Linked DNA regions of Homo sapiens: all the other regions are reported to be linked to region 3. Evidence: microRNA targets listed by miRTarBase, many of them from high-throughput screens and not tested one by one. Region 3 holds a microRNA gene; each other region holds the end of a gene's coding sequence.

Region 1 (10,436 bases), not on the chromosome of region 3:
CCGGGAACAGTCTCCAGCAGCCAAGAAAGCCAAGATTCTGTAGAGGGCTGGTCAGCTGTGACAGTGGAGAGGAGAGTAGGGCTAGGCTGGGTTCTAGACCTATCAGGTGATGGTGGCCCTCCCTCTCCCCTTCACTGCCTTATACCACTTCAGAGTCCCTGGCACCTGGAGAATCTGCCACTGCTGTAATGGGCATTAATTTCTGTGACTCAACCCAGGCAGCCAACTTCCAGCTGTGGTATGTGCCCAACTCGAGGTGGGGGTGAGAGGATGGGCTGGAAAGGGACAGGGTAACAATGAACTGGAAATGGAGGTGGTGCTTAGTGGGGATACATCATGATTGGGTGGGTCTGGAAGCCATCTCAGGCCCTCATTCCTGACCTCACTCTTTCACTGCCTCCAAGCTGTGCCTCTACACAGGGTGGGAAGTGAGGGGAGAGATGACAGCCTTAATTCTTCTCCGTTTCCTCCCACCCCTCCCAGCACCCAGACCCGACAGTTCTACGTCTCCATTCAGCCACCTGTTGGGGAGCTGATGGCCCCTGTGTTCATGAGTGAAAATGAGTTTAAGAAGGAACAGGGTGAGTGCTCCCTGGGAGTGGGCAGAGAGGGAAGTATAGAAGCTGACTCCAGAATGTCCAGCTTGGATGGTAGGGAGAATGGTGGTGTCCTTCATCTAGACCAGGGGTCAGCAAACTTTCTGTAACGGGCCAAAGATAAATGTTTTAGGCTTTGAGAATCATGTGGTCTCTGTTGCAGTTACAACACGACTGTGGCTGTTGAAACATAGAAACATCCACAGACAGTATGTAAATGAACGAGTATGGCTGTGTTCCAAGAAATTTCCATTTATATTTATAGATACTGAAGTTTAAATTTCATGTAATTTTCATGTGTCATGAAATATTAATCTTTTGATTGCTCCCCCAACACTTAAAAAATATTAAAAACATTGTGGGCCATATAGGTGGTGGGCTGGATTTGGTCTGGAGGCTGTAATTTGCAAAACCTCTGGCCTAGAAGAAAGAAGAGTGGCTTGGGCAAGGGAGGAGGGAAGATCATGGTTAGTTTTGGATAAGCTGATTTTGAAATGCATTTGGGAAATTCAGGAGGAGCTATTTAGTATGCAACTGAAAATATGGGTCTATGCCCAGGAAACACTTTGAAGCTGGAGTCATGAACATAGAGGTGGTAATGGAAGCTGTGAATATGAATGAGATCACTCTGGGAGGTGGGAGAAAATAGGAAGGCCAAGGACAGAACCTTGGGGGAAAACCTGAATTCTGCAGAAGAAAGAGGAGGGGAGGGATAAGAGAAGGAGCACAGGGAGAGGTGGGAGGAGAACCAGGAGAGACAACAAGGCAGAAGGTGTCTGCAAACCACAGTTACCTAAGACCTTCAGAGTCAGCATATAAAAGGCTACTGCCAACCTGAGGGAGAGAGGGTCATTGCTAAAGGAGGGACAGAGGCCAACTGCAGTGGGTTGAGGGAGACCACGGCTCAAGTACATGCAGTCCTCTTTGGAGGACTTTAGCCATGAATGAGGAGGGAGACAGGGCATTGGCACGATGAAGGATCTCACTTCTGGAAAGGATTTTTTGGAGACGGGGACACTTGAACATGAACAGATTGAAGGAACAAAAACAAGAAAATGTTATTAGTCATGAATGAAGGGGATAGAAGAAACAGGAGAGGGATGTCAGTTTCTAAAAGGAGGTGAAGAATAGGGGAAGCAGTGGAGGGAGGAAAGAGGCTGAAGAGAAGACTGCTGGTGTGCAGGAGAGCAGACGGAGGAGCTCCCATGGGGGGCCTGGATCATGTGAGTGGAGAGAAGTCAGCCTTGCAGAATGAGGAGTTCTGGGGGTGCTGTGAAGGTTTGGAGGCTTCAGGAGCCCTGGCTAGGTCTGGAGCTGCTACTGCAGAGGTACAATTAAAAATGTACCTGTGAATGCTGCATGTGACTACTGGATTCTGGCTGAGAGATCACAGCAGCCACCTGTGATCTTTTTGTGAGGGCTTAGCTTCCAGGAGCTGAGTGGGAGTTGAATGTGGGTTGGAGGGCCCCCCAGGAAAGATCAAAGGGTGTGAGGTTCAGGATGGGCGAACCTCTTAAGAACTGACTGGCCACTCTCAAGGGGCTGGTAGCCCAGATGTCTGATGGAGGAAGCGCCAAATCAGTCTTTGGTAACAACATGGATAAAGGCCTGGGTGGGAGGGGTAGAGAGGCTGACAAAGGCTTCCTGAGGGAGGGCCCAGTCTGAGAGGGAAGTACCTTCTCCCCAAGACTGATGATTTAAATTCTGACCTGCCCTTTGCATGATACCTTCCCAGCCTGGGAGAACTTGTTGCTCAGTAAGCAGACCCAGGTGCTGGCCTCTGTACCCACCATGGCCTCTGCCCTCATCACGACCTCTACCCCCAGGAAAGCTGATGGGCATGAATGAGATCACAGAGAAACTCATGCTGCCAGACACCTGTCGGAGTGACCACATTGTGGTGCAGAAAGTGACTGCCACTGCCAACCTGGGTCGTGTTCCTTGTGGGACATCTGATGAGTACAGGTACTAGGCCACCAGTAGAGGGGAAATGATGAGCATGGGGGCCCTGGTTTGAAGGAGGAGCCCCAGCTGCTGATCCCCTTCCAAACACAGTCACCCTTAGCAGCTCTTCCTCACCCCTTCTATTCCCACCTCAGGTTTGCAGGGAGGACACTGACTGGTGGAAGCCTCGTTCTGCTGACCCTGGATGCCCGGCCAGCTGGAGCTGCCCAGCTGACTGTCAACAGCGAGAAAATGGTGATTGGCACCATGCTGGTAAAGGATGTGATACAGGCTCTGACCCAGTGACTTCCAAATGCTGTGACCTGTTTGGCTCCCATCTATACCTCCCCATGACACCTAGGCTGTCAGTCTCTCTCATCTTTCTCTCTCTCTCTCATCATCCTCCTCATGCCAGATAGCATTCAGGGTGTCCTCTCTCCCTCTGGAGGACCAAGCCCTCCCCTAATGCCCTCCCCATGGATTCCTTAGTGATCTGTGCAGAGAGAGATGGCAGCCACTCCCTTCAGTCCTCCCAGATTTCTGTAGCTATTTATGTAGCAGGCTCAATAAAATGTCTTCTCTCTAGCTGCTGGCTCACCTTTCCTTCTAGGGGTTTGTCAGGAACAACTCTTGTTGAATCCCCAAGGTAACCATCTCTGGGTCAGGATGCCTAGGAGTCTGCAGGCATCTCTGTGGAAGAGACATCTGGGCTGGGGTGGCAAGGCAGAGCTGGAAGAGCACCTTGGTCCTTTTTATAGCCTCTGCAAAAACAAGTCCTCTTCAATGGCTGGCAGACCCCCTTAGTTCTTCTTACGGTCCCTTGGGAAGGAAGGACTCATAACATGGGGACTTCCCCAAACACAGGTGCTCAGTTCAACATATGTCAACTACTCCAGTTAGGGGGCCTGGAGGCCCCACCTGGCTGGGGTACTGACCCACTGGTCATCTTAGTGGAAGAATAGAAGATGCATAACTGTACTTCTCAAACCACTTTGTGGCAAGTCACCTGGGGATCCCATCACATGCAGATTCTATTAGTAGGTCTAGGGTGGGGTCTGAAATTCTGCATTTTTTTTTTAAGTGAAAGCAGCCGGGCGTGGTGGCTCACACCTGTAATCCCAGCACTTTGGGAGGCTGAGGTGGGCCAATCACGAGGTCAAGACCAACATGGCCAACATGGCGAAATCCCATCTGTACTAAAGATACAAAAAATTAGCTGGGCATGGTGGTGCGCACCTGTAATCCCAGCTACTTGGGAGGCTGAGGCAGGAGAATCGCTTGAACCCAGGAGGCAGAGGTTGCAGTGAGCTGAGATCGTGCCATTACACTCTAGCCTGGACGACAGGGTGAGACTCTGTCTCAAGATAATAATAACAATAATAATAATAATGTGAAAGCAAATTTATTAAGAAACAACAGAATGGCGACTCCATAGGCAGAGCAGCAGATTCTGTATTTGTAACAAGACACCAGCATCTGCTCACACCTGGAACAAACCTGGTGGGTGCAGTGGGGGTCAGGGCTCTCCCTGACACCTTTTCTGGTGAAGAAAGAGGCTGAGTGAGCAGTGGTTCTAAAACGTATAAAAGGTGTTCCATTAGGATGTGTTCTGTACCCTCCCGCCCCCTGCAAAGTCTATGATCAAATAAGTTTAGGAATCTTGGATTTAAGTGAAATAAGTTCATTTCCTACAGGTCTTCTCAGAACTTTTACTATGCTAATGTACACTGTGACCACCTCTCAGCCTGCAGTGTTACTCAAACTTGGTTTTGATTTTGGAACACTTTCCTCACAACATCTTGATTGACTGGGTTACAAGGAACACACTCCAGTTAGTTTGAGATGTTGAACCTCAGCCTCTGATCCTCTGTGACCAAGACTTTAGGCCCTTGGCCATACTGTCCCTCAGCCCTGCCACTTAGGCATCCCTGAGCATGTCTGTTCATGGGTAAGATGGGGTGAAGCAGGTGTGGCTGTCCTCTCACAGAAGGAGAACAAAGGCAGTGCCAGGGGACAGCCCTGCCTCTGGCTCCAGGGACTTGCTGGGCACTGTGACACCAGAGAGCTGCTGGAGCTGCTGCTTCCCTGAGAGCCTGGGGCCCCAAAGTCTCCCTGGGATCACTGTTTTTGTCACTGCAGATTCTGAGATGGTCCTCCAGTCAAAAGTAAGATTCAGTCTTACTTTTGCCTCTGAATCAGCACTACCCACAGCACTGAGAGAGGGTGAGGGTGATTTTCTAAGAAATTTGAACAAGGACCATCAGAGAATCCCTTACCCACCTTTATTCTATATCAAAAGCCCCAGAGTAGAGCTGGGCATGTGTCTGTAGTCCCAGCTACTCAGAAGGCTGAGACTGGAGAACTGCTTGAGGCCAGGAGTTCAGGGCTGTATTGCACTATTATTACACCTGTGAATAGCACTCTATCCTGGACAACCTAGCAAGACCCTACCTCTAAAAAAAAATCCCCTTTTAAAAAAATGGGATTCTGTAGGAACCAGAAGTGCAAAAGGCAAGTCCCACAACATTCCTCAAGTACAGTCCAGGTTCCCAGAACCTCTTGGAAAGGGCACTGGGATTTCCAACCCTGAGAGTCCAGAGAGTTGGAACCTTCACGGCTCTGTGTTGGTGTCTCTGGAATGTGTCCCAGGCTTTGGCATTAGCAGTAGCAACTCTTCATAAGGAAATGGTTCTGGTGTTTGACCAAAGAGAGAGGCAGGAAGCAGGAGAGCAAGGTGTGGGCAGGGGAGAGTATGACTGCAGAAGGAGCCCAGCGGGGAGTGGTGTGCTGCTGGTGAAGGCTGGGCTGGGAGATTGGTGGGGCAGCAATTTCCCACCCAGGAGGAGCATGGGGCCTGTTCTGTGCTGAGTGAACGGTCTGGAGTGAGAGAATCTCAGTCACAGAGGAAGGGGGAGTGGTTGCCCCAGCTCTCGTTCCAGCCCAGCCCATCTCTTCCAAGGCCATACCTCCCACAACCCTACCACATGAGCATACCTGAGCGAGTGTGCAGGGATAAGATGGGGGCCTGCCCAGCACACACAGGTGGAAGCAGGTCAGACCTGCAGGGGCTGGGGGCCCCCACATCCCCCGGGGGCATTTTCCCCAACCCATATCGTATTCTGTATTTTATCACTGGCCCAAGTCTTTGCCACTGTGGTGACACTTTGTCCCCAGGTTATTAGGGGCCTGGTCACAGAGTGTCTGGATCTCAGTTGGCAGGGAAAATGCTTCCCATGAACAGCCTTTTTTTTTTTTTCTTTTTTTTTGGGAGACAGAGTCTTGCTCTGTTGCCCAGGTTGGAGTGCGGTGGCACAATCTCCGCTCACTGCAACCTCCGCCTCCTGGGTTCAAGCAATTCTCGTGCCTCAGCCTCCTGAGTAGCTGGGATTAGGGATTACAGGCGTGTGCCACCACGTTTGGCTAATTTTTATATTTTTAGTAGAGACGGGGTTTCGCCATGTTGGTCAGGCTGGTCTCGAACTCCTGACTCGTGATCTGCCTGCCTTGGCCTCCCAAAGTGCTGGGATTATAGGCGTGAGACACTGCACTCAGCCTAATTTTTTGTATTTTTAGTAGAGATGGGGTTTTGCCATGTTGGCCAGGCTTGTCTGAAACTCCTGAGCTCAGGCAAAACACCTGCCTCGGCCTCCCAAGTGCTAGGATTATAGGCATGAACCACCATGGCTGGCCAGTCATGAATAGTTTTGATGGGACAACCAGGGAACTAGCCCAGGGCTGTGGGATTCAGGTGGGGCCCAGGACCACAGGACGGACTGGGAAGCACTCTTAGGACTCTGCTGGTGCAAAGGAAGGGCCGAAAGTGGCCTGGAAGTGGATAGAAGCACAGGGACTGGCACAGAGGCAGTGACAAGGATGGGGTAGTGCATCAGTGGGGATCTAGGTCTGAGCCTGACCACAGGCCTTGATGGGTCAGAGGACAATGAGCTCAGAGAGGGGCTGGGAACTGGAGTCTAGTCCAGGATGGCTTCAAAACAATGCCCAGGCAAATGGGCAAGAGAGACAGCTCGTTTCCAGCCAGGCTGCATCACCTGGCTAGCTGCAGTGGCTGGTGACCCGGGGGAATAGATCCATTTAGAGATACCAAGGAAGCCACTACAAGGACCCTGGAGTTGCGACATTAGCTGTGCCCATGCTTGAACTCCCATCTGTCTGGTGACTAAGGCAAACCCCTGCACTAGTTCAGCCTATTCTGCTTGGCATCTTGACAGTCACCTCCCAATAGTGTATCTTCCACATCAAAAGGATGGGTGTTGAGGGTGGAACTCAAAGTGGGAGGACTTTCCCTGTCCTGGCTTGGAAAGGAAAGGGAAAACTGGAAAATTCTGACCCACCCGAGGACCTCAGCCTGAGTCTTCCTTCTGTCACCACCTGGTCTTTTGGCTCCCAGAGTCAAGAGAAGGATGGTGAATTGGTCCCTGGGAGGGTGGAGCCCAGGTTGGGATATGGAGAATAAGGATTAAAAGTGGCGTATCCTCAAGGAAAAGAAGCAGTATATACCTTTTTGGGTCTTTGACTTGATGGCTCTGGTTTGACCCCAGTCTCTCTCCCTGCATCCCCAATCCCACTGACCTGTCTAGAAGAAAGCACTTAGGGCTGAACTTTTTGATCCTGACCTTTGGGAACCCCCATTATTTTCCCATTACCAACTGCCCCCTTGCTGCAGAAGATGCTATGGTGTCACTGAGGCTTCGCTTCCCTATGGCATCTGGAGAACAGAAAGAATGCTTCTCTCTATCCAGGCCCCAAATACATTACGCCCCTGGCTTTGGAAATATATTTTTTTAAAAATCTAAAGTTTCAGTATTTAAATTTATGAATCTGTAAACATATAATTTATAAATTTATGAATATTTAAGTATAGTATTCCTACATAAAATTGTACAGATCACAAGTGCTCAACTTGATGCGTTTTCATAGACTGAATAACCCATGTAAACAGCATCCAGCAAGAAAAAGCGTGGCAGCACAACTTCCTCATGTCTGCTTCCAGTTTGGGGCAGTGTTTCATTTTGCTGAGAGATTACAGAGTCCTGAAACAGTTTGACACCAGGCTCCAAGTGGCAGTGGGATTTCAGAAGGCCAACATGGATTTGTGTCCAGCAATGCCAACACAGTGGCAGATGCTTCTCTTTGGGGCTATTAGGGATGTGTTAACAACAGCCTCTGTGGGAGGGGCAGGGTATGTGGAAATAGGAGGGTTGTCTTGTTTTGGCTGTGAAGAATGTAAGGAAACACCTATGGAGGAAGAGGAATTCTTGAGAGCTTGGGCAAGGTGACTTTGACCTTGGATGTGCTAAGACCTCAGCATCTGTACCTTCAGAGGGAAGTCAGGGAGGGAGAGGTGGGGTTGGTGTTTCTCATGGGTACCAAGGCAAGACCAAGACCCTGGACTCCTGACCCTCACCAAGAAAAGCTGCATACTCTCGAGTAAATCTCTGAATGTCTCAATTTCCCCAGCTGCAAAACAAAGGGGATGGCCTCTCTGATTCCCATGTCTCTGGGCATCCACTAACCCATTACAAGCATCTCAGGACAACCAGCACTCACCTTCAACCTCCAAGATACTCCCCAATGATCTTTGCTACCTGATATCTGTATCCTTGTGTCATTCCCTCCCACATATTATCAATGTTGGTGTTATGTGAATAATAGGATACAAATGATGGTATGTCATTTCTCAGATTAGGTTATAAAATTCTTTGAACCTCCATCTTGGTTGTTCTCTTCCTCCCTCTCAAGCCAGCTACCATGTCTTGAGCAGCAATATGGAGAGGTCCATGTGACAAGGAACTGAGGCTTTTGCCGGCACCCACTTGAGTGAGCTTGGAAGCTGATCTTCCAGCCCAAGGCAGAGCTTCAAGTGACTGCAGTTCTGGCTGACATCATGACTACAAACTCATGAGAGATTCTGAGCCAGAACCAGCCAGCTAAGCCATTCTCTGATTCCTGACTCCCAGAAATTGTGCAAGATAATAAATATTTGTTGTTTTAAGCTGCTTAGCTTTAGGGGTAACTTAATAGCAATAAATAAATAATACAATCCAGCCTTCCACCCATCTCCTAGGTTGTTGGGAAAGCCCTCAGGGAGCCTGGATCCCTGAGTCTGGCCTTCAGAGCACTCTGCTCCCACATTCAGTGTCTGAGTGGTGTGCCTGAGTTGGCTTCTCCTGGCTCATGAGGGCTGACTGTTATTACACATTCAGGAATTTTGTGAGCCAGATGATGTCACACTGACAATTTGAAATCAGCCGTGGTGGGAGTTTTTATGCCATGGAAAGAGACAAATGCTACAAATCACTTCCCTCCCCCAGCCAATTGTCAAACATTTACCAGCACATCACGGCCCTTAATTATCCCCATCTCTGTCTCTTTAAAATATTATTATGTATTTCAAGTTTAGAGACTATCATAACCACCTGTATACTAATCATCCAACTTGAGAACTGAAGCACTCATCAGTTCAGTGCTCATCAATCCAATGTCCCCCACACCCCTCATTTCATGACTGCTTCCTTTCCCACCTGAAGCAAATCATTCTGAATTTTCTGTTTATCAATAACATCCTTTTTTTTGTACTTTTACTATAGATAGACGTGTTCCTAAACAATATATAGTACCATACTTTGTGATGGTGGTGCGTACTACACGTTTTCAAATTTTATATAAATGGCATCTGAGAGTATGTTTTCTCCTACATCCTGCTTTTTCACTCAATATTGTTTGTAAGTCATGTTGATGTGATCTGCTGTATTTCATTTACTTTTACTTATATATAGAATTCCATTGTATGACTATACCATAATTTATTGATCCACTCTCCTGTTGGTGGGCATTTAAGATTATTTTATTTTGTTTTGTTTTTGTAACTATTAACAAAACAGCTACAGACATTTTTACTCATGTTTCTTAACACGTATGAAAGTTTCTCTAACATATTTTCCTAGGAATGGAATTGCTGGGTCATAGAGTATACACTTTTTCAAGTTAACTAGAGAATCCAAATTGCTCACCAGAGTTGCTATACTTCACATCAATAATATTTCTAGCAGCTTTATTCATAATAGTCCCCGAAGTGGAAAGAATTCAAATTCCAATCAATAGGAGAATGCAGAAATAAATTATGGTGTATCTACACAATGGAATACTACTTAGCAATACAAAGGAACAAACTACTCCTACATGCCAACAACATGGATGGATCTAACAGGTATGTTGAATGAAAGAAACCAAAAATTATATGAAGTCTAGAACAGGTTAAATGAATCTGTAATGAAAAGCAGTAAGGTAACGGTACCTTGAGGAGGGAGGTATAAAGTGGGAAGGGGCAGGAAGGAACCCAGTGGGGGTTCTGGAGAGATTCTATGCCTCCATGCGGGTGGTGGTTACCTCGGTATACACTTAAGATTTGTGTACTGTGGCCGGGCGTGGTGGCTCACGCCTGTAATCCCAGCACTTTGGGAGGCCAAGACAGGTGGATCACAAGGTCAAGAGATCCAGACCATCCTGGCTAACAGGGTGAAACCCCGTCTCTACTAAAAATACAAAAAATTAGCCGGGCGTGGTGGCGGGCGCCTGTAGTCCCAGCTACTCAGGAGGCTGAGGCAGGAGAATGGCATGAACCCAGGAGGCAGAGCTTTCAATGAGCCGAGATCTCGCCACTGCACTCCAGCCTGGGCGACAGAGCGAGACTCCATCTCAAAATAAATAAATAAATAAATAAATAAATAAAAAAGATTTGTGCACTCTATGCATTGCCTTCTCTCCATTAAAAGATATGAAACATAAAAGCACACACCAAAGTAGCTGAATCAGTTTACGCCCTCACTAGCAGTGATCCTGCTACTGGGACAGTGAAAGTTGATCATTTTTTTCCAT
Region 2 (10,436 bases), not on the chromosome of region 3:
TTATTAGATGCAAGCAATTCTTTGATTGATGGCTCCAACATGGATTAAGGTCAAAAGTGGCCCTGGAGACCAAATTCCCTAGTGAGGAACTGCCACATAACTTCATGTGTCTTTTGCTTCTGAATTATTTCTTCTAGAAACCACCAACCACAAGCTGTCACGCTGGTATTATATCTACATAACGTTTATTCTTCTTACAGCAAAGAGCTGGAGAAATACAAGTGAGAACCTGTTATTACAGGTTAAATTGTGTAACACTCAACTTGCGCTGAGGTCCAGTTTCTTTTTATTATGCTCCAATTTTGTTGAATGACTATTGCCTAAAATAAATGGGCAATCGACAGGGGCTTAGAACTAACAGGGATGCTTAAGTGACTTTTATGGTAGCAGTATTTGTTGTAACAGAATTTGATCTGTATTCTAGTTATTAGTTTTATTCATCACATTGGAAAGTTGGCACCTCCACTGTTCATGCCATTATATGCAAAGCACTGTAGCATGAAAGTCACTTACAAAGCTGTGAAAAAAACTCTCTGAACACCAGAGGCTCATGAAACAATAAAAGTCAGCTAGGGGGATATACACTGTTTGATTTAGCTAAATATTCTGGATGGTCAAAGGTTTATTCCTTTTAATTCCTAAAAGTTTTTTTTTTTAACCATTGGGATGTAAATATTTCTAAAATGTTTGATATACATATTTTTGTCTTCTAAGCATAGTTTTTTTATGTATGGTGCACAGGGTCATCATTTTAAATAGAATATTGTCCCATGATACAGTGAGGCTCTTAAAGATTGAGATGTGTATAGACTGTTTTTGACACTAAATAACCCATATATCAGGGCTTTGGAGCTTTGCAGTCTACTCAAAATTTCCATTTTCTCTATTGCTGTCCTCCTTTTTCCTTCTTGTTTCCTCTAAAAGTCTGTTTCTTTCCTTTACAGTTAGAAATATGTGTGAAGGAAGAGCAAATAGGTTCTGAGGAGGTGCCTGATGACTAGATGTATGGCCTTTGTCTTATGCGTTTGCTTCATGGTATTTATTTCAATTGGTTGGAAGCCTTGTTTGCTTACTTCTTAATTCTCAGTCACTTTTGATGGGTTCAGCAGAGGTTCTAGATTTTTCTAGTTCTGTCTCAGTTACTCATTGTCAAACCACTGGTTTAGATTTTGTGTTCAGGAAATAGGGATAGGTAAAGCTATCAGGTGGCTAAGCCCTAGGTAAATGAGTTGCCATGAATCCTAAAATATTGTGAAGGTTGTGGGCCATTTTTATAAGGCAAATGGTATGCTGTGGCCGTGACAGCTGAACTCAGTAAGTGAACTTTAAAACAGATAAGCTCCTTTTGCTGTTGTCCCTTTCCAAGAATATGAAGCTGGCCTGACGTCAAGCTGTTGGAGAGCCTTCAACATGTTTAATTAAATCACAGACTCAGTGTCAGAGCTGGCTGACTTTCAGGATTCTAACGCTATAGCAAAAGAAGACATGGTTTTGCCTCTCGTTGATTTTCTTATTTATGGCCTTGGAATAAAGAAGATAAAGCAAGTCTAACAGTTCTCCCTTCCAAAAGTACAGTTTCAGGCCAGAAGATTTGACTGCTACCCTTAGACTTTCTTTCCCTCACTGTACATTGCATTTTACAGGCTATACAAAGCAAGACCTTCTTTGCAAAAGGCAAACTCCTTTGCCCCAAGGCCATACTGTACATGTGTGGGGGTAGTTGTAGGGGGATCAGTGTTGTTATTCACCAATACAAGATGGAATCAGTGCAGCTAGGAGAGAAGAGATTAAGGAAAGAGGCTGTGAAGTCTGCTAGACCTGGGTTTAAATTCTGGCTTCCCGCTTATTAGGGTGTAACCGTGGTCACAGTACTTAATTCTCTAAATTTGATTCCTGAGCAACAAAGTGGGGAATGATAGTATTGGTGCTGTTACTATTATGATAATGTGAAAAACAACAGGAGAGTACCTGGCCCAGAGAAAGAGCTAAGTGACAGCTCTTATTAACATAAATGAATGATTTAAACCTGGAGATTACAATAGTTAACAAGCACAGACACTTAGTGCAGTCTGTTACTGACTTCAAGCAGTCTTTTGCTTTTGTTTCTATTTCTGTGACATCTTCTCTTATTACGACTTTCTGTTGGGTGTCTCTAACTCTGGTGCCTTGTGAAGGCCAGGAGATATTCCAGACAAGCTGAAATTCTACCTTTTTATGAGTATAAAGGAAATGGGGCCATGTTGGACCAAACAAAGAGTAATAAAATAAAATATAGAGTTGTAGCTTTCAGAGGGAAAGATAAAACAAGAAAGGGCTGGGGCAATGGATGTGGTGTTGAGATACTGGCACCAGGAAGCAGGGAAGAAAACCTCCAAACACATTGTGGTTTGTTAAAACACTGAAGACTCCTAAGTGCTACAGTGGCAGGCAGTGCCACCCCACCAGGCAGCAGTGTCCTCCGCAACTGGGGAAGAGGAAGTAGGGCCTAATGATTGCTCTCGGAGACAGAGAGTCTGCTGTCCTGGGCTTTACCAGCCTGGCTTGTTGGGTGACCTTGAGTGACTTATCTCCCTCTCTTGGACAATTTTCTCAAGGTTCTCACACAGTCCCTAGCTAACTAAAAGGGTCTGATGAAGATAAATGTGTTAAAAGAAAATTTAGAGGAGAGTCCACAAACTGTCCCTCCAGATACACCTGCTGGTGGGTTTTAGGATTTTTAAACATTAAATTTTAATGCATTTAGGCAGGGCTTGGTATTTTCTAATTCACACAGTATCTACCATCTTGAGTCTTCACATTTGGCTCCTGAAGGCCTCTGAGTATATGACTTCTGATTTCAATGCAACCTCTGGTCCTTCAAACCAGCTTGGAATTGCTTCATTTACAACTCATTCTATGTTTTCATCAATTACATGCAAATATGTATTTCTAAAGTTTCACAAAACAAAGATTTTGTTGGCCTAACTGTAATTTGCTCTAAAAGACATTTTTTTTTCTAGAAAATATGGCAAAAATTACAATTTTACCTTCCTTCTAGTTCATCCAAATTCTAAAACTTTAATGTTATTTGAAAACATAATTTGGCACCAAGTATTCTTTAGGTTATAATCTAAGTTGCTCATAAAATGTAATCTAGGCCTGGATCATTTTACTTTGAGGAGAAAACTTATCACTAAATAATAATGATCTTAAGTCTGTTCTTTTGCCACTTCCCAGAGCTCTCTCCTAAGGCACTGTGGAAAAGTCAGGAGTAAATTAGACTCCCACATCTAGTAACCAAAACACCATCATCTCCAGCATTACCACAGTCAAGTATGCAGCTCGTCATAAATATTTACACCTTGCAGGGTCCTTTGTGCACAACTCTGAGAGACAAATGGCATTTCCAGTAATAGTTTATTGATTTCCAAATGCACAGGGGCACCAAGTCCGAACATCCTGGGATAGCAGTAAATCTCTCTTACAAAATAATTTACAGTATGAAAATGATATACTGAAACATTAACCCAAACGTGTAATTCCCTTGAAAGATTCAGTGTTCCCTTGTTTAATGTAAAGGGTGGAAGGGGAAGATTCCTAAGGAGGGAATGTGACTGTGCACAGGAAAATAGGCAGAGGACAATGGATTCATTGGTTCTCCCCATTCATGCAGTGTGGCCTGTCACTGTAGAAAGACTGGTCAGGTTTAACCCTCATTAAGTATTAATCTGCTGTCCCCTCAAAGTCATATCAAGCCCAGTATGGGCTCCGTGGCTTTTTTTGCACCAATGTATCCATAAGTGTCTCCACTTATTTTCATTTTTCTGCTCTGGCCCTCGTTCTGCTGTTTCTGGTATGTTCTCAGTTCCAAATTATACTATCTTATCTTACCAGGCAGGCCTCCAGAATCAAGAACTGCCTGAGTCTTATGGTTTCTGGAATGGGACAGGGTAGGGGGCTTCATAAGCACTGCTGGATAAAGGCAATAATAATGAGACTGAAGTCTCCCATATGGGCCTTCTTTTTCTCTTAGAGCTGGGCTGGACTCAATCCATAATGAGATTTTTTTAAACATAAAAATCTGATGTGATCAGCACACAGTAAACGTGCAGTTAATTTTCTTATTGAGAAGCATGTATTGCACAGCCATTATATGAATGTGGAATTTCAGGAATGGCAAGAGAATATTTTCTACTTGGGGAGAGAGGACTTCCTAGACCCTGCCACAACTACAAGGTCATGAATTCTGCATTTGTGCCCTTAGGTCTAACTGGAGTAGTTAGACTCTCAGGTCACCAAAATGGCTGGGCATCCAAGTTTCCCATCTTATTAGACATCCTGGAGGAGGGCTGGAGTGCAATTTCCTTCAGGGCTGTCACTTTGACTCAGTGCCTTAGGAGCTAATGACCTTTGCTAGGGAATTGCTCTTCCTGTAAGCAAGTACCTAAGCCCCAACTATATGGTGACACTTGTAATTAGGGCTGACAGAAATCTTTGAAGTAGTACGCAAGATAATGAAGGGGCTGCTTTGAGTTTTCCTTAGCTCTCAAATATTGTGTGTGTGTGTGCGGACATGTATGTATGTATATACATATACACACATATCACACTTGTCCTTTATATATAGGTACACACTCCCCCGACACACACACTAAAACCAGGAATCAGTAAGAGAGTCCAGATTCACTGGACTTTGAATTGCCACATCCTCACAGAGTACACTGGCGGCTAAGTTTACTAAAATATGAAGATTTCCTTTTCTACAGGAGTGAAGCTGCAGACATTTTCAAATAAAGTTGAGTAGAGAGCAGAACACCCTTCACTTTTACTACTGCTGCAAAGTTCTATATCTTTGAAGGCCAAGAAACACCTTATTTATGGAAGATGGCATGAAAAAGGAAATGTTCTCCTAACTCCTGGGGGTGGGCTCAAGTCAGCAATGTGTACTTAAAGCATCTGCTAAAGGGGAGAAATAAGGCTACCTCAATGCCATTTCTGAGCCCTAACTATAACTGTGAAATGTCATTTTGAAGAAGATTCATAAATTGGGATGGTCAGCACACAGTGGGAAAACCTGAAGTCTTTTTATCCTTCTGTTTTTAGGTGGACCATGGTGTGTGGTACAAAGTGCCTGTCCACAGAATTAGGGGGAGCTGCGTTCAAGATTTGGCTTGAGTATTTCCTAGCTGTATAACTTGAAGCAAATGACTCTTCCACTCCCCATCTGTTTTATTATCTAAGAGACAGCTCAGGGCCTGGCTCATAGTTGTTCCTTAATACAAGTTATTTCCCTTCTTGGGCTGTCAGAGCCGAGACTCCAAGCACTTCTTGGGACTGTCCTGGATTTAATGATATCAAATCAAAGTCCCTCTCAGCATCCAGAAATTCAACATTTGAAAGATAGCCAGAAATTGCTATGAGTATCCGACTGATTCTGGAAACATTCATTACCTGCCTCCCTTGGTGACTTCTCTTTAGGGGTTTCAGCAAACCCTGCCACCTGCACCCAGGCAAGACCCAATTCTGAGCTCTCTAACTTTTACTGACCTGGCAGGAGGGAAGCCTCATCATGCTGGGGCTTAAGGCCAAGCAGCATGCTCCAGCTCTAGGGGAAGGTAGTGCCACTGCAGGAAGCATCCTAGTTCTTACATTGATAAATGCTGCCGGCAGGAACTTAGAAGCCTGGGCAAAAGCTGCTGCACTGTGTTTAATGCTTCCCTGGTTAAAGTTTTATCAGGTACTGAAGACAGCAGGAGTCTATAAAGCAAATCTGAAACGCTTTCTAAGTAAAAGCAAAAGTGCTTTCCTTGAGGATCACAGAGATATGATAAGTTACTGAGACAGGTTGGCAAATATTTTTATATTTCCATTTATATCCACTGCATAAATGCTTGAATTTCCCAAATACTGATTCAAAGTAGTAACATATGATCAGATATGGAGAACCAATGATCTGTCTATTGCTAATATAAGGCTACTATTTGGAGATCAAACAATGATTATTGGGGAAAGACAATACAAGCTTCCAAATCCTAAAATCTTTTTAATCTTCTGATACTTAAATTTTTTCGAGAGTGGCCACTGGTCCTTCTTTTAGGGTACTTTTGTTGGATATGATTGGTGGTTGTAATTAATGGTATGCCAAATTCTCCAGTCTTTGCAGAGATAGGTAAAGCACCAAAATTGTCCTAGCCATTTCTTGGCCATCAGTTTGAGAGAAAAATGCTTTTTTTTTTTTTTTTTTAACACCTCAAACTCCCCTCAGCCCCAATATCCTGGCATCTTTAGTGAGTCAGGACAATCCTAACCTAGAAGCATATATGCCTGGGAGCTTCCTGGCCTCAAAGGAATAAATCTTTTCACAGCATTCACAGGACTGAAAAATAATATAAATAGGATTCCTACAGTAAACAAGTATTGTTTCTGTTTCAAAACCATCCTGCAAGCATAACAATCAGCTGGTCCTAAAGCCTGTAATACGTACACAGGTCACAGGCAGACAGGCAGGCAGGAAAAGGGATTTCCCCCAGTGCAGGCTCCTTTGGTTCTGCCTCAGAGGCACTAGAAGTCTAGGCCCTGGGTTAACAGCAACCCAGAGTCTGCTTGGATATGGTTCTAGTTGTATGCTTCGTAAGTGAACACCAAAATACCATAAAGGTAGAGGAGAGTGAACACATAACCCACTTGCAAATAAGAATTACCTTGCAAGATTCCTATTTTTTTATCTTAACAGTCTATGCGTATGAACATTTTATTCTATAATATAACTTTTATATAAAAATAGGTCATCTTATGACTCTAAACCATTTGGTAAGTAAAACTGATGCTTCAAGAAGATGCAGGTTTTTAAGTTTGCAGTTTTACATTCCCCTAGTACATCCCTGCTTACTCGGGAGCACAAAGCTTGGTTGTAAGAAATTGTGATTTGGAAGTAGAGAAAAGCAAGGAAGTCCAACCTCAGGAGTGTCTCTGTTACTAAGAGGAGAGTGAGATCCAGGGTGTGGGAGATGATCTGAAGGTCTATGGGTGGGGAGTGCCACAGGAAGAAGGGTTCTGGTCGGAGTTAAAGGAGGATATATCTATATGCTGGGAGATGAGCTGAATTCAGAACACATGGAATGGGAACAATTCTCCCCATACTGCGTTTAAGCCAAATTAGGCTAAAATGGGGGTGGGACTAGCAAAAACCTACAATGGAAATTCCCATTTGGTAATATACATTCCAGCCCTTCACGTTGTGACAAGCCCATAAAACCTGCAGAATTCACCCAAATAATTCTGGTTCTATTAGATCCTTTACTGACTATTTTGGAAATTCAAGCAATTTGAATTCAGAAATACTGATTTCAACTTTTAATCAGACTTCTTTGGTCCTTTTTTTTCCCCCTAAGGTCATTTCCGTTCCACCTCTTCAATCATTTTTTTCATTTCCACAGCACTGAATTATGAATATCAAGTCCTGGATAACTTCATATACTAAAAATATCTCTTCCTCATCTTTAACTCTTTCTCCAACACCTTTTTCCAGTCATCCATCTTAATTCATGGCACCACAATTTTCACAAATGTAGAACTGGACTTTTAGGGACTGTCCACAAGAGTTAATTTGGCCCTACCTTGCTCTCATTTATTTCATGCTTCAATATGAACAAAATTGGGTTTTTGTTAATAGGCAGGGAGAAAACTCTGACTTCCCTTCAAGATTATTCCAGATCCTTCCTAACAAAGCGATACTGTTTGGTAATACAATATTATGGGGGCTGGCTTTCCTGAGTAAGTTCAAAGCAGCCATTGAGGGATTACCTGAAGGACCTTTCTTAATTGCTCCTGGTGGATCAAAGGGGCTCTTTTCCTTGACCTACCACAACCAGGGGATGAGAAGCACACAGTAAGCATAAAACTGGTCATCCCTTGGAGAGATATGTGCCTGCTGTGGATCTGGGGACACATCTGGTGGAAGTACGTTTGTTGCTGAGCAGCTTTCACAGAAATCAGAAGCCGTTACATACACGCTGTCACATACACACAAGGGGAGGGGATGATTTTCCACTGGGGGTAGCAAGCCTTCATGTGTCCTCTTCTTCACTGGCACCACTACAAAGGAAAAGGAGAACCAGGTGAGTTAAGATATCACAAGAAGGGAGGCAGCCTAGTCTACTGGTTGATAGCACAGACTTTATGTCAGACATACCTGGAATTAAGTCTTAACTACCATGATTGAGCAATATGGCCAAAGGCAAGTTACTTCGTTTCTCTAAATTCTGATTTCTTTATCTGGCCATAGGGGGAATGATGATAAAACTTACTTTCTTGAGTTACTAGAGGATTAAATAAGAGAATACATATAAAATGCACAGTACCTGGTATACAGTACGTGAGCAGCTATTTAAAGGAGCAGGTGAGAGTCATAATTCTTTTAAACTTAACTGACAAAATAAATTGCTGGTAAAAATCAGGTGTATGATTTCCTCTAAGCCTTAAGCCATCTACTGTTAGGAGAGAAAAAACAAGGAGAAGCTACTACCATCTGCACTCTCAATGGCACTCTGCACTTGGAAAAAAAATCCAAGATTTCAACTCATGCCATAGGGACATATGCCACCTCGTCAGAGAAGGTACTCTACTAAGTAGGACTCCCTGGTGATTCTCTATCTTATGTCTGTCATAGGCCTTATCACATTACATAATTTATTTGTTTACGATTTACTCTTCTCTCTACCCATGACTACAGCATATAAGAATAGCAACACTTTATTAACTATGTATATCTAGCACTAGCACTGGGCTGGGCACATAGAGGTGCTCAATAAATAATTGGTTTTTAAAAGGAAGTGAAATACAAACAACAGGAAGAAAGGGAGGGAGGGATGGACACAGTTGAAGGGACTGGTCAGTCATTACTGCCCTGGCCAGGTTATTCCAGATGTTAGTGATGTTTCAGTGGTCAAATAGTTGTCAAGTCCCTCAGGCATGGCTAGTACCTCAGCTGCTCAGAGTTACAGCCCCTCTGGCTTGGACCTGGGAGAGAACACTGTTGGTACAGGGACTGGGGCAAGGAGAAGGTAGAGCCTGAAAATGCAGGAATGAGCACACTCAGAAAAGCAAACGTAGCAAACTTGCCTAGTTTCTCCCCATCCTCTTCTATAGGTCACTGCCCTTAAAATAGTAACAAGAGCCAGCTTGAGCAAGTGCTTACTGTGGACCGGGGCACTGAATTACGTGTTACTCACCCATTCTTCCTATTATGTAGGGGCTATTATTATCCCCCGTTTTCCAGATGAAAAAAGTGAAGCTCTAAGAGATGTAAAATCCTAGGGTCACATAGTAAGGTCTGTGTCCTTAAAACTCAAGGTTTAGTTTCAGTTGGATAAAGTCTGAAGTGGTCAAGCTGGTAGAAAAGGAAAAGGCCTGTAGAACATCAGCTCCCAGCTATTACCTAGAAATTTTTCATCTCACAAGGGATTATCTATGTCTATATAAAACCTGTGCTCTTTTGCATCCATCTGGGAAAGACTTTAAGGGAAAATATCCTAGGCAGCAAATTTCTAGAACTTCCACTAAGGGCAGAAACATTTCAAGAAACAGGTCCTGCAAGTTAAGTGTATGCTAGGAGCCAAAAGAACCAACTCAATAATCTTCACCATTCCAAACTCTGCCCTGTTTCCACTCCCCTTTCCTGCTGGTTATACAATCATGGGATGAAGGGTGCATGCTGGAAATGCTGGACAGTGGGCTGTCATTAAGAAGCAGTATTTAATGGCATCTGTCCCAAAGGGAACACAGGGTCTTTTATGAAAGCTTCTCACCAGAATCAAGGCAGAGCTGGAACTGGCGTCATATTCTCCCCCTTTGGTATTACATCCAAAGCAAGCTCTCATTGTTCTCTTGTCAGTTTTATTTCAAATATGAGGGCAGCATGGTGACTCTGCCCTAAGCTGCAGTTCACTTTTTAGCATTCTTAACGTGAGACATAGTTTAAACGTTCATGGACCTAATGAAATTGTATACAGAATTTTATCTGTGTGTTCCTTTGTCTGAGAGAAGACATACTTTTCATCATATTTTCAAAGAAGTCAACAACTCTCTTGCCAAATTGGGAATAACCAAATTATAAATAAACTCTTTTTGGTTGCCAGGTTCTTTACTATAATATTTGGAGAGTGGCTTGGGGAAAAGGTCTGAAGTCTGAACTGATAAAATCTTTTCTCGTTAACCTAAAAGAGACGTGTTCTTGGGCCTGAAATTTATCTCACAGTTTAAAACATGAGATCTTAGGATACTGGCATATCATTTATTGATTACTTCATTTGCTAAATATTTGTTGACTGTCAACCATGTGTAAGTCATGATGCTAGAAACAAAAATGAATAAGATGAACACGGGAGTTGCCCTCTAGGACTTTAAAGCCTAGTAGGTGAGATACAGGCTCAGGGGAGGGAGGAAGAACCTTTTTTTTT
Region 3 (10,436 bases):
CAGGGTTTCACCATGTTGGCCAGGATGGTGTCCATCTCCTGACTTCATGATCCGCTTGCCTCAGCCTCCCAAAGTGCTGGGATTACAGGCGTGAGCCACCACGCCTGGCCCCTTTCTTTTTATGTCTTTCTGGTCTCTACTGAGTTTGTTTTAGGCTTATCATTTTCCAATGCTGGAATTGTTTTGTTTCTCAGAAATAGTTTTAACCTAAAACCCATTGGTTATGAAACAAAACTGCATAATGTCTACATGGGCATCCATTCATAGTGAAGTTTCATTGTAGTTAGATCGACTTTAGTGAACCTTTTTTGGATTCATTTGACAATGAGTTTGGATAACTCAGGAAAGGATGTAGAATCAATGATTTATGCATTATAGTCTGAAGTATGTAGCTGAATTTCAGTACTAATAATAGCATAGAATGGTGCTGTCCAAAATGCAACTCACATGTGTAATTTTAGAATTTCTAGTAGTCACATTTAAGAAAAGTAAACAGAAATGGGCGAAATGATTAATAGGGTATTTCATTTAACCTAATATATCCAGAATATTATTTCCACATGAAATCAGTATAAAAATTTTTAACGAGAAATGTACATTTTTTATACTAAATCTTTGAAGTCTAGTGTGCGTTTTGTGCTTACAACACATCTGAATTTGGACGGGCCACCTTTCAAGTGCTAGGTAGCCACATGTGGTTAGTGGCTTCTGAATGAGACAACACAGATATAAAGCATCGTTTTCTACTTTCTCTTTGACTGCCAGGGTTTAAGTAATGTCACTGTAAGGTTAACACAGTTTCAGTATTGTTTAGCCCAAATGCCACGTTTTATGGGTAAGATAATTGAGTCAGGGAAAGAGAATGTAGCTTGCCAGAGCACAGTGAGCTGGGCAGGCTCTGAGTTCACATCTCCTGCAGCCCAGCCAGGGCTCTTTCCCAACCAGACTACGCGCAGGCTGTGGTGACTCGCAGCACTTGTCTAGACAAGGAACGTGTCAATCTTTGATGATGTTGCATTCTGTGCTCTGCCTCTGAATTGAGATAGGATCAGTCTCAAATTCTTGAGATAAATTCATTAATTCACCGGCTCATTGATTCATTTGCCAGCCTACTACCTGTTAGACACTAGGAATGCCAATACACCCTAGAAAGACTCAGTCTGTGGGGGACAGACCAGCATTCCGCATTCATTGCAGCATCACCAAATACTGTGATGAAAGGTTTAACCAGAATGTGCACAGGTTTCAAATAGCTCTGAGGCCATCAGTGAAGGGACTGTGACTAAAGGCATATTATATGAAATGGCAGGAGTGCAGTGGAGAGTCTAACAGAATGGACAAGCACCACTGGCGACCAGGCTGAAATTCAGATCTTGATTCCTTCATGCAATAAACGTTTATTGAGCTCGTGTTGGGCATGTTAGGGAAATGCAGTGACAAACAAGATATACAGTTTGTGTATCAAAGAAGGTTGCCATCTAGAGGGGAAAACGTTCCAAAATCAATGTATTAAAATGAATAAACAAGTTACAAACTATGAAGCTAGGATAAGAAACAACATAAAGGGGCAGGGAATGATGGACAGGGGCAAGATATTTGACATTGATGGTCAGAGAAGACCCCTCTTTGGGGTTCGTATTACAGAAAGACTAGCTGTTTTAAGCATAATAGAAACACCCCAAAATGTGTCATGGCTCAAAGACAAGTTTTTTTCTTTCCACCCACATACAATCCAAAATGAACATGGCTTGATCAGCAGGTGCCTCTCTTCCATGCAGTGATTCAGGGACCCTGGCCCCAGCCATCTGTGGCTCCTCAGTTTTTAACATTTCCCTTCCATAATCCCCTTGCCCTTCTGCATCAGGGTTTTCTCCAGAATGGGTAGAAAGCCTGCAGTGATGCTGGTGATTTTCTTTCTCACCATCACTGGACACACTTAACTGCAAGGGAGGCTGGGAAGTCAGGTGTAGCCCAGGAAGAACAGGTATGCCCAGTGAGACACGTATGCCCAGGAGGAAGAGGAAACAGCTTGGTGTGAGCGTCTAGGTAGTCTCTGCCACACATACAAAACATCAAAAGGATTTATCCTTGTAAAGAATAGAGAGAAAAATGTTCCCCACAGAGGAAGTGATAGTGCAAAGGCTCTGAGGTTGAGAACGAGTTTGGCCTTTTTGAGGAACTGAAATAAAAACAGGATATCTGAAGCACAGAAGCAAGAGATCAAGAAATGTCAGAGAGTGGTGGACAAATGAGAAGGGGCCATATAAGAGAGGGGTTTGGGATTTGAAAACTTCTTATTGTTGAAAAATATACATAATACCAAAGTTACCATCTTAATTATGTTTAAGTGGCACTAAGTATGTTAACATTATAGTGCAACCATCACCACCGGCTATCTCCATAACTTTCTCATCATCTCAAACTGCAACTCTGTACCCATTAAAACACTAACTCCCCATTCCTCTCTCCCTGCAGCCCCTGGTAACCTCTATTCTACTTTCTGTTTCTCTGAATTTGGCTACTCTGCGAACCTCAAAAGAGGAATCATACAATTTTTGTCCTTTTAGGTCTGGCTTATTTCACTTAGCGTAATGTCTTCAAGATTCATCCCTGTTGTAGCATGTGTTAGAATTTTCTTTTCTTTTTTAGGCTGAATAATACTCCATTGTGTGGATATATGACATTTGGGGTTGATTCATCCAGTGATAGACATTTTAGGTGTTTCCATCTCTTGGCTATTGTGAATAATGCTGCAATGAACATGGGTGTACAAATACCTGTTTGAGTCATTGCTTTCCATTTAAGACTATATCCAGGAATGGAACTGCTGGATCCTATGGTAATTGTATGTTTCAGTTTTTGAGGAACTGCCATACAGTTTTCCACAGTGATTGCACCATTTTACATTTCCACTAGCTGTTCACAAGTCTTCCAGCTTCTTCACATCTTTGCCAACACTCATAAGTTTCTGAATGTGTGGGTTTCATAATAGCATCCCAGTGGATGTGAAGTCTGTGGTTTTGATTTGCATTTCTCTAATGGTTAGAGATATTGAGCCTCTCTCCACGTGCTTAATGGGTATTTGTGTGTCTTCTTGGGAGAAATGTCTATTCAAGTCTCTTGCTCATAATTAAAATTTTTTTTTTTTTTTACTGTCATTGAGGGGTTTGAGATTTTATTCTAAGCTCAATGGAAAGGCATTGTCAATCAATCCAGATGTCAGTCAAGCAGAGGAGTGACATGAGCCAATTTTCTTTATATTTCTTTCTTTCTTTCTTTCTTTTTTTTTTTGAGACAGAGTCTCACTCTGTTGCCCAGGCTGGAGTACAGTGGCACAGTCTTGGCTCACTGCAACTTCTGCCTCCTGGGTTCAAGCAATTCTCCTGCCTCAGCCTCCCCAGTGGCTGGGATTACAGACATGCACTACCGTGCCCAGCTAATTTTTGTTTTTTAGTAGAGACGGGGTTTCACCATGTTGGCCAGGCTGGTCTCGAACTCCTGGCCTCATGTGATCCACCCACCACAGCCTCCCAAAATGCTCTCATTACAGGCATGAGACACTGAGCCTGGCCCAAATTTTCATTTTAAGAAGAAGTGATTCCCCTTCTGTGTGAATTTCTCCAGCAATACCAGCTCCTGGGTCCCGCCAACAGAGTGGGCCGATGGTGAGGATACCGTCAACCCTAAAAGTCCTTGTTCACAACGGGCAACAATCAAGTGTAATTAGAGCAGAAGGCCTGAATTCTATTTTTCCTCCCACAAGCTTCAGCAGTGACTCATGCTTCTGCATTGCTACTGTGGTGCTCCATATTTCCCATGCTCCGGGGCTCCAGTGGGGTGGGGGCATGTGGTTGGGATTAAAGGCAGCTCTGAGCAGGTAAAGGGTCACTCCATCTCCAGGGCCCACTTAGTCCTCAAAGGGCCTGACAAGGGCAGAGCAATTAGTGAAAGTCGTGATATTGGTTGCCGGAGGTATGGCAGAGACACCTGTTCCTTGGGAAGCTGGTGACATTGCTAATTCATTTCACACCAGCCTGACAGGAACAGCCTGACTGAAGCAAGCGGTCAGTGATGAAGAAGAAATAGGATTTCCCCTCTCCCGAGAGAGCCAGTTCCCTCACCCTGATGTCCTTATTTCAGTTTCACACAGCTTGATAAGTAAAGCTAGAACTCAGTATTAGGATTAACATGGCCATTTTATTATTTATTTATTTATTTTTGGAGACAGGGTCTTGCTCTGTTGCCTAGACTAGAGTGCTGTGATAGGATCATGGCTCACTGCAGCCTCCATCTCCTGGTCTCAAGTGATCCTCCCACCTCAGCCTCCCAAGTAGCTGGGACTACAGACACACGCCACCATGCCTGGCTAACTTTTTAATTGTTTTGTAGAGATAGACTCTCCCTATGTTGCCCAGGCTGGTCTCAAACTCCTGGGCTCAAGCAATCCTCTTGCCTCCTCCTCCCAAAGTACTGGGATTACAGGCATGAGCTACTGCACTCAGCCTTTACATGGCATTTAAAAAATTTTGTCAGTTTTTTTTGGTACTTTTTCTTCCTCCCAGACATTCTTGTTTGTCCACTGAAGCAGAAGTTCTCAAACTTCACTGCATCAGAACACCCAAAGGACCCGTTAAAACACAGAGCACTGGGCTGAGCCCTGCAAAGCTTCTATTCAGTGGATCTGGGATGGGTTGAAGAATTCAAATGTCCAGCAAGTTTGCAGATGCTGCTGCTGCTGCTGCTCTGGCCCACTCTTTGAGAAACACTGTGTGAAAACAATCAGTGTAACTCTGTGGGGTCATGAAATAAGCTAATTTAGGGTCCGTAACATAGCAGTGATGGCAGCCACTGTTTCTACAGCCTGGACATAGACTGCCTACCTCTCTCAGTAGGGTTTCCTTCTGTACTGCAGTGTGCAAGGGCGTGTGGGGGTGTATGTGTCAGAACACAGACACGTGAGCTCATAACCTCCAAGAATTCTTCAAACACCACTGCTTTTCTAAGCAGAAGCAGCAGGTGGGAAGTCCCTGGCGCTGTTACAGCTGGGGGGAAACCACTTATTGTTTTTCTATTGTTTCTTTCATGTGATCAAAAGGAAAAGTGAGATTGTTTCTCTTACTCAGGCGTGCATGGGAATTAACACTCCTTAAAACCTGTGACTTCATTCAGTTCATTAAATACATGTTAATTGAACATCTGCTTTATGCCACTCTGTTTCACGTGCTGGAGACAGAGCAGTGAACAAAACAGAGTAAGTTCCTGATCAAGTGGAACCTTTTTTTTCTGGTGGCAGAGAAAAGAAAGAAACATACAGAAAAGTAAATGTGTAAATGTGTTGTATGTCCATGGCCAATAGATGCTATGGGGGGAATTACTCTGTGTGTGTATGTGTGTGTGTGTGTGTGTGTGCGTGCATGTGTGCATGCATAGTGGTCAGGGAATTATCTCCAACAAGGTGACACTTGAGCATAGGCTTGAAGCAAGTGAGGAAAGAAGCCATATGGAGATCTGGAGGAAGAGTGCTCCAAGCAGAGGGAACAGCAAGTGCAAAAGCCCTGAGGTGAGAGCATTCTTAGCATTTCCAGAATAGCCAAGAGGCAGGTATGGCTGGTGTAGGGTCATGAGGAAGAGGAGATGGGAGAGATGAGTTCAGACAGGTGATCTGGGCCAGATTGTGTAGGACCTCGTAAGCTATTGTAAGGATTTAGTGGGAGTCACTGGAGGATACTAAGCCTAAGAGGGTGTTTACATATTGGAAGGATCTTCCTGCTGCTGAGTGGAGGGTGAATATAAGGCAGTAATGGTGGAATCAGGAAGCCTAGTTAGGATGCAGTTTCAATAACCAAGGTGAAACTTGGTTTGAGGATGTAGCAGTGAAGGTGGTGACAAGGGGTAGAATTTTGGAGATAAGTTGAAGGAAGAGCCAACAGGGTTTACCATATTTTGGATGGGAGATAGGAGATAAGAGATCAAGGCTGATGCCAGGTTATTTGATCTGAGGACCTGGAAGAATGGAGTTGCCATTTACCCAAGACAGGGAAACTGGGAGAAGCAGTAGGCCTGTGGTCTCGCTGCATGCCCAGGAGAAAAAGGAAATACAGGGCGGAAAGGAAAGCAATATTGTAGGATACCAAAGAAAATCACTCAGTCCTACAACATCAGCAGAGCTGATGTTTGTCTCTTAATGTTTTCACAATTCTTTCCATTCCTTATTCATCTCCACTCATATTTTACAAATAGTAATAATTAACAATGTGGAGTGGTTAATATATGACAGGCACAATGAAAGGCATTTAACACACATTATCTCATCGAATCCTGGCAACAGCCCAGGATAAAGATGACAGAAGTGTAGACAGGTTAGGTAACACCCCACTAGTAAGTCAGGGAGCTGGAATTTTACCTGGGACTTTCTCACTCTGAAACTCCTGGTTGTTTCCTACTTTCCTACTGTGCTACCTGCCTTTGCATTATTAATATTTTTCAGATCTCCACATTGCCCAGAGATCTCTAACTCTTACAATTTAGGGGATCATGTCTCACCTTCCACAGTATCTCACAAGTTCAGGGATGACAGACATTCCTTGGCCCATCTGAAATAATAGAGACCAGAAATAAACATGCACTTTCCAGAATGAAGTTTATTATTATTATTAAGATGGAATCTTGCTCTGTCGCTCAGGCTGAGTGCAGCAGTGCGATCTTGGCTCACTGAAACCTCCGCCTCCCAGGTTCAAGTGATTCTCATGCATCAGCCTCCAGCGTAGCTGGGATTACTGGTGTGCACGACCACGCCCAGCTAATTTATTTTATTTTTTTAGTAGAGATGGGGTTTCACCATGTTGGCCAGGCTGGTCTCGAACTCCTGATCTCAGGTGATCCACCCACCTCGGCCTCCCAAAGTGCTGGGATTACAGGTATGAGCCACTGCACCCGGCCAAAGTTTATTAATACCATGTTGCAAAAAGGGCAAGTGCCCCCAGAAAGCCATAGAGGGCCTTATCAAACAAAGCAAGCAGGAGGTTATTCTAGGATTTGGGGAAACGATGGGATTTAGCTAAAATTCAAATGAAGCAGTGTTTTGATGAGCGCAAAGCAGGGCTGTGTGTAATTAACATCAGGCTGAGCTGGGGAGCTGACTCAGGGCTCCGTTTCCTTGGAAACTACAGGGTTAAGAGAAATGTAGAATATTGTGCTTCCAAACTCCTTATCTGAAGCACTGCACCTGCCTTGGAAATCTAGGCTGCTTCTCTGTGTCAAAGAGACCCCAGATATTTCAGGTAGGAATGGGATCTTCCATTCTTACTGATAGGATTTTGAAGAGGAAACTGTCAGGAGGTCTGTAATTTTTGAGAATACGGTTTCTCAATGCCATGTCTTCTTGTTCAACCACAAAGGCAGTTTGGTACAGGTTCACAGAATGCAGCTGCTCCTGGCCCTTGCTCCTGGGGCAGCTGTCTTCCTTCCCTGCCAAGGTTGCCAGGCAGTGACCCCTGTGTCTCCTCATCCCCATAAGAAGCACTAATGTTGGGCTGCTGCATTGTACCACTTGCTGGAGTATTTGCAGTCACGGCATGGAATTCGAGTACAGTGCTAACTATGGCATAAGGCTGGGATAGTAAGACGACTGTCTTTCAAAAGCATTCCCTGCATCATTCCCAATTGTTCATCGGCCATGGCTTACCTAGTGCAATTTTCTCAAGCTTCTCTCTCCTCCCTGTGACCTTCTCCCAGCTCTCCTCCTCTCCCCCATTTTGCAGCTTCTTAATTGTTTCTCTCCACAAAAGAATCTCAAATGTGCCCTACTTTTGTATGCAGAGCAGTTCTACTCCTTTCCTTTCTCTTTCTAAATTGGGACCTGGTGGCTGGTGTCCCTCTCACCTTCTGCGGGTAAAGTGGTGGCCAGGGACCTGGCTAGCCTTGGGTTCAAGGGCTTGTGGGAAGGGAGGAGATGGAGGCCGACGAGATGATAGAAGAGGCTCTTTGTGCTATGCTCAGGGCAAAGCCCACCTCCTCTGATAGCTGTGATGCCATTGGGATAGTTTTTGCAGGTGCAGAGCAGGCGGGGGACCTGTTTGTATTTAGATTATGGATGCTTTTCTTAGAGTTAAGATCACAAGGCATTGAAAAGATTAACTTGTGTTAGAATCGATGGGCCTAGAATGAATACACAGTGTCTTTTATTGTGAAGACACAGGAGGAAGGAAATGAAGAGGCTACTGGAGCAACAGTGTCACCTGTCACTGAACAGGGACCCAGAACCCCTCATGCTTGGACACATGCTTTAAGTAATGCTGTAACTATACCAGACCAATCTGGCTCGGCTTTTATGTAACAAAGTTGTCAGTTGTTTTTCAGTTGCCATGGGCTGCCCCCAGGTTGAAGGTCACATACCCTGTGCGTGTGCAGATGGACCAAGCATCCAACCACAGGCGGAACCTAAGTGTTTTGACAGATTAGCAGGACTGAATTAAGAAGCGGACACCACATGACAGGATCCAAGATCCAATCAGATTGAGCCCTTGTGTCACTCCATGGCAAGATCCAATCAGATCATGCCTTCCCAGCATCATGTCATTGCAAGACCCAATCAGATCTTGCCTTATTACCCTATGCTTATAAAACCCCACAGCCCCAAGCTCAAGGAGACAGATTTGAGCATTTCCTTTGGTCTCCTTTCTAGTTAACTTCCAATAAAGCTTTTCTTTTCTCAAAAGCTGGTGCCGTGGTACTAGCTTTTATGCACATCAGGAAATGAGCCCTTCGATTGCTTGGTAAGAGTGCAAGAAGTCAAACCTGGCTGTGGGTCTACCTCATCTACACAAGGGAACAAATAATGAGCTCATGTCACAGAGCTCTTATTTATTGAACAAAATTTTTATTGATTGCCTACTTGTGCCGGACACTGTGCAAGGCTATGGGCAGAAAATGAATAAAATATTAATGTTACTGGAAAGGGGTCCTAATCCAGACCCCAGGAGAGGGTTCCAGGATCTGGTGCAAGAAAGAATTTGGAATGAGTCCATAAAGTAAAGTGAAAACAAGTTAATGAAGAAAGTAAAGAATTAGAAATGGCTATTCCACAGGCAGAGCAGCAGCTTGGGCTGCTGGACTAAGGATACTTATAGTTATTTCTTGATGTTATGCTAAACAGGGGGTGGATTATTCATGCGTTTTCCAGAAATCATGGGCAATTTCTAGAGCTGAGGTTTCCTCCCCTTTTTAGACTATATAGGGGAACTTCCTCACTGTTGCCGTGGCATCTGTAAACTGTCACGGAGTTGGTGGGAGTGTCTTTTACTATGCTAATGCATTATAATTAGCATATAATAAGCAGTGAGGATGACCAGGTCACTCTTGTTGCCATCTTGGTTTTGGTGGGATTGGTTAACTTCTTTACTGCAAGGTTTTTAGGACCTGTGTCTTGTGCCGACCTCCTATCTCATTCTGTGACTTAGAATGCCTAATGCCTGGGAATGCAGACCAGCAGGTCTCAGCCTTACCTTACCCAGCCCCTATTCAAGATAAAGTTGCTCTGGTTAAAAGGCCTCTGACATTGACATGCCCTAAAAGAGCATAGCCTAGTGGGAGAGACAGACAAGAAAATAAACAATTTAAATAAAATGCACAATTAAAGCAAAGTAAAAAAAAAAAAAAAGAAACTTTAATAGCATTTTGTCCAGGACAACTGTACATCAGAGAAGGAATGTAACTTATTCCGGACTAAAAATTCAGTGCAGCCAGGAGAAGAAGTTTGGATTGAGACATTACAGATAAACAGGAAGCGAGGGGGAAGAGGTTCAGAATATTCCAGTGGTCCTGGTAGCAGGCATGGCTGGGGTGGAGAATGCACATGAGAAAATGGCTGGAAACGAGCTGGAGAAACAAGCAGGGGCAGCCGGTGAAAGAGCATGTTTGCAGACTGAGGAGCCTGCAATTGTGGGGAGTCATCAAACTTCTAGAGCTGCTTTTTTTGAAGACAGGTGTATTAGGATTCTCTAGAGGGACAGGACTAATAGTATAAATGCATATATGAAAGGGAGTTTATTAAGGAGTATTGACTCACGTGATCACAAGGTGAAGTCCCACAATAGACCATCTGCAAGCTGAGGAGCAAGGAAGCCAGTCCGAGTCCCAAAACCTCAAAAGTAGGGAAGCCGACAGTGCAGCCTTCAGTCTGTGGCCGAAGGCCCGAGAGCCCCTGGCAAACCACTGGTGTAAGCCCAAGAGTCCAAAAGCTGAAGAACTTGGAGTCCAATGTTTGAGGGCAGGAAGCATCCAGCACAGGAGAAAGATGAAGACTGGAAGACTCAGCCAGTCTAGTGCTTCCACGTTCCTCTGTCCGCTTTTATCCTAGCTGTGCTGGCAGCTGATTCGATGGTGCCCTCCCGGATTGAAGGTGGATCTGCCTCTCCCAGTCCGCTGACTCAAATGTT

What was found. The annotated mature microRNA hsa-miR-4293 reads CAGCCUGACAGGAACAG and lies in region 3 at 4,031-4,047, shown strand. An mRNA with a match to its seed (bases 2 to 7 or 8) in the 3' UTR can be bound and repressed. Matches are read on the target gene's strand: a 7mer-m8 pairs with bases 2 to 8, a 7mer-A1 pairs with bases 2 to 7 and ends in A, and an 8mer does both.
Region 1: the mRNA of AP3B2 is a reported target of hsa-miR-4293. The part of its 3' UTR that is shown has no 7-base or 8-base seed match.
Region 2: the mRNA of TRIM44 is a reported target of hsa-miR-4293. The part of its 3' UTR that is shown has no 7-base or 8-base seed match.

The regions. Positions count from the first base shown.
Region 1 is chr15:82,651,970-82,662,405 of GRCh38, reverse strand. AP3B2 (adaptor related protein complex 3 subunit beta 2) reads left to right here. Exons shown (of 27, transcript NM_001278512.2): 24 at 154-238; 25 at 484-581; 26 at 2,423-2,561; 27 at 2,696-3,125. The coding sequence ends at 2,846. All of the region lies in intron 3 of CPEB1-AS1 (CPEB1 antisense RNA 1), which reads right to left. Among named protein-coding and RNA genes, the nearest start is that of CPEB1-AS1, 9.4 kb to the right of the region's middle.
Region 2 is chr11:35,803,995-35,814,430 of GRCh38, reverse strand. TRIM44 (tripartite motif containing 44) reads right to left here. Exons shown (of 5, transcript NM_017583.6): 5 at 1-8,073. The coding sequence ends at 8,046. Among named protein-coding and RNA genes, the nearest start is that of LDLRAD3, 130 kb to the left of the region's middle.
Region 3 is chr10:14,376,821-14,387,256 of GRCh38, reverse strand. It overlaps MIR4293 (microRNA 4293), which reads left to right and starts at 3,980; the gene lies at 3,980-4,057.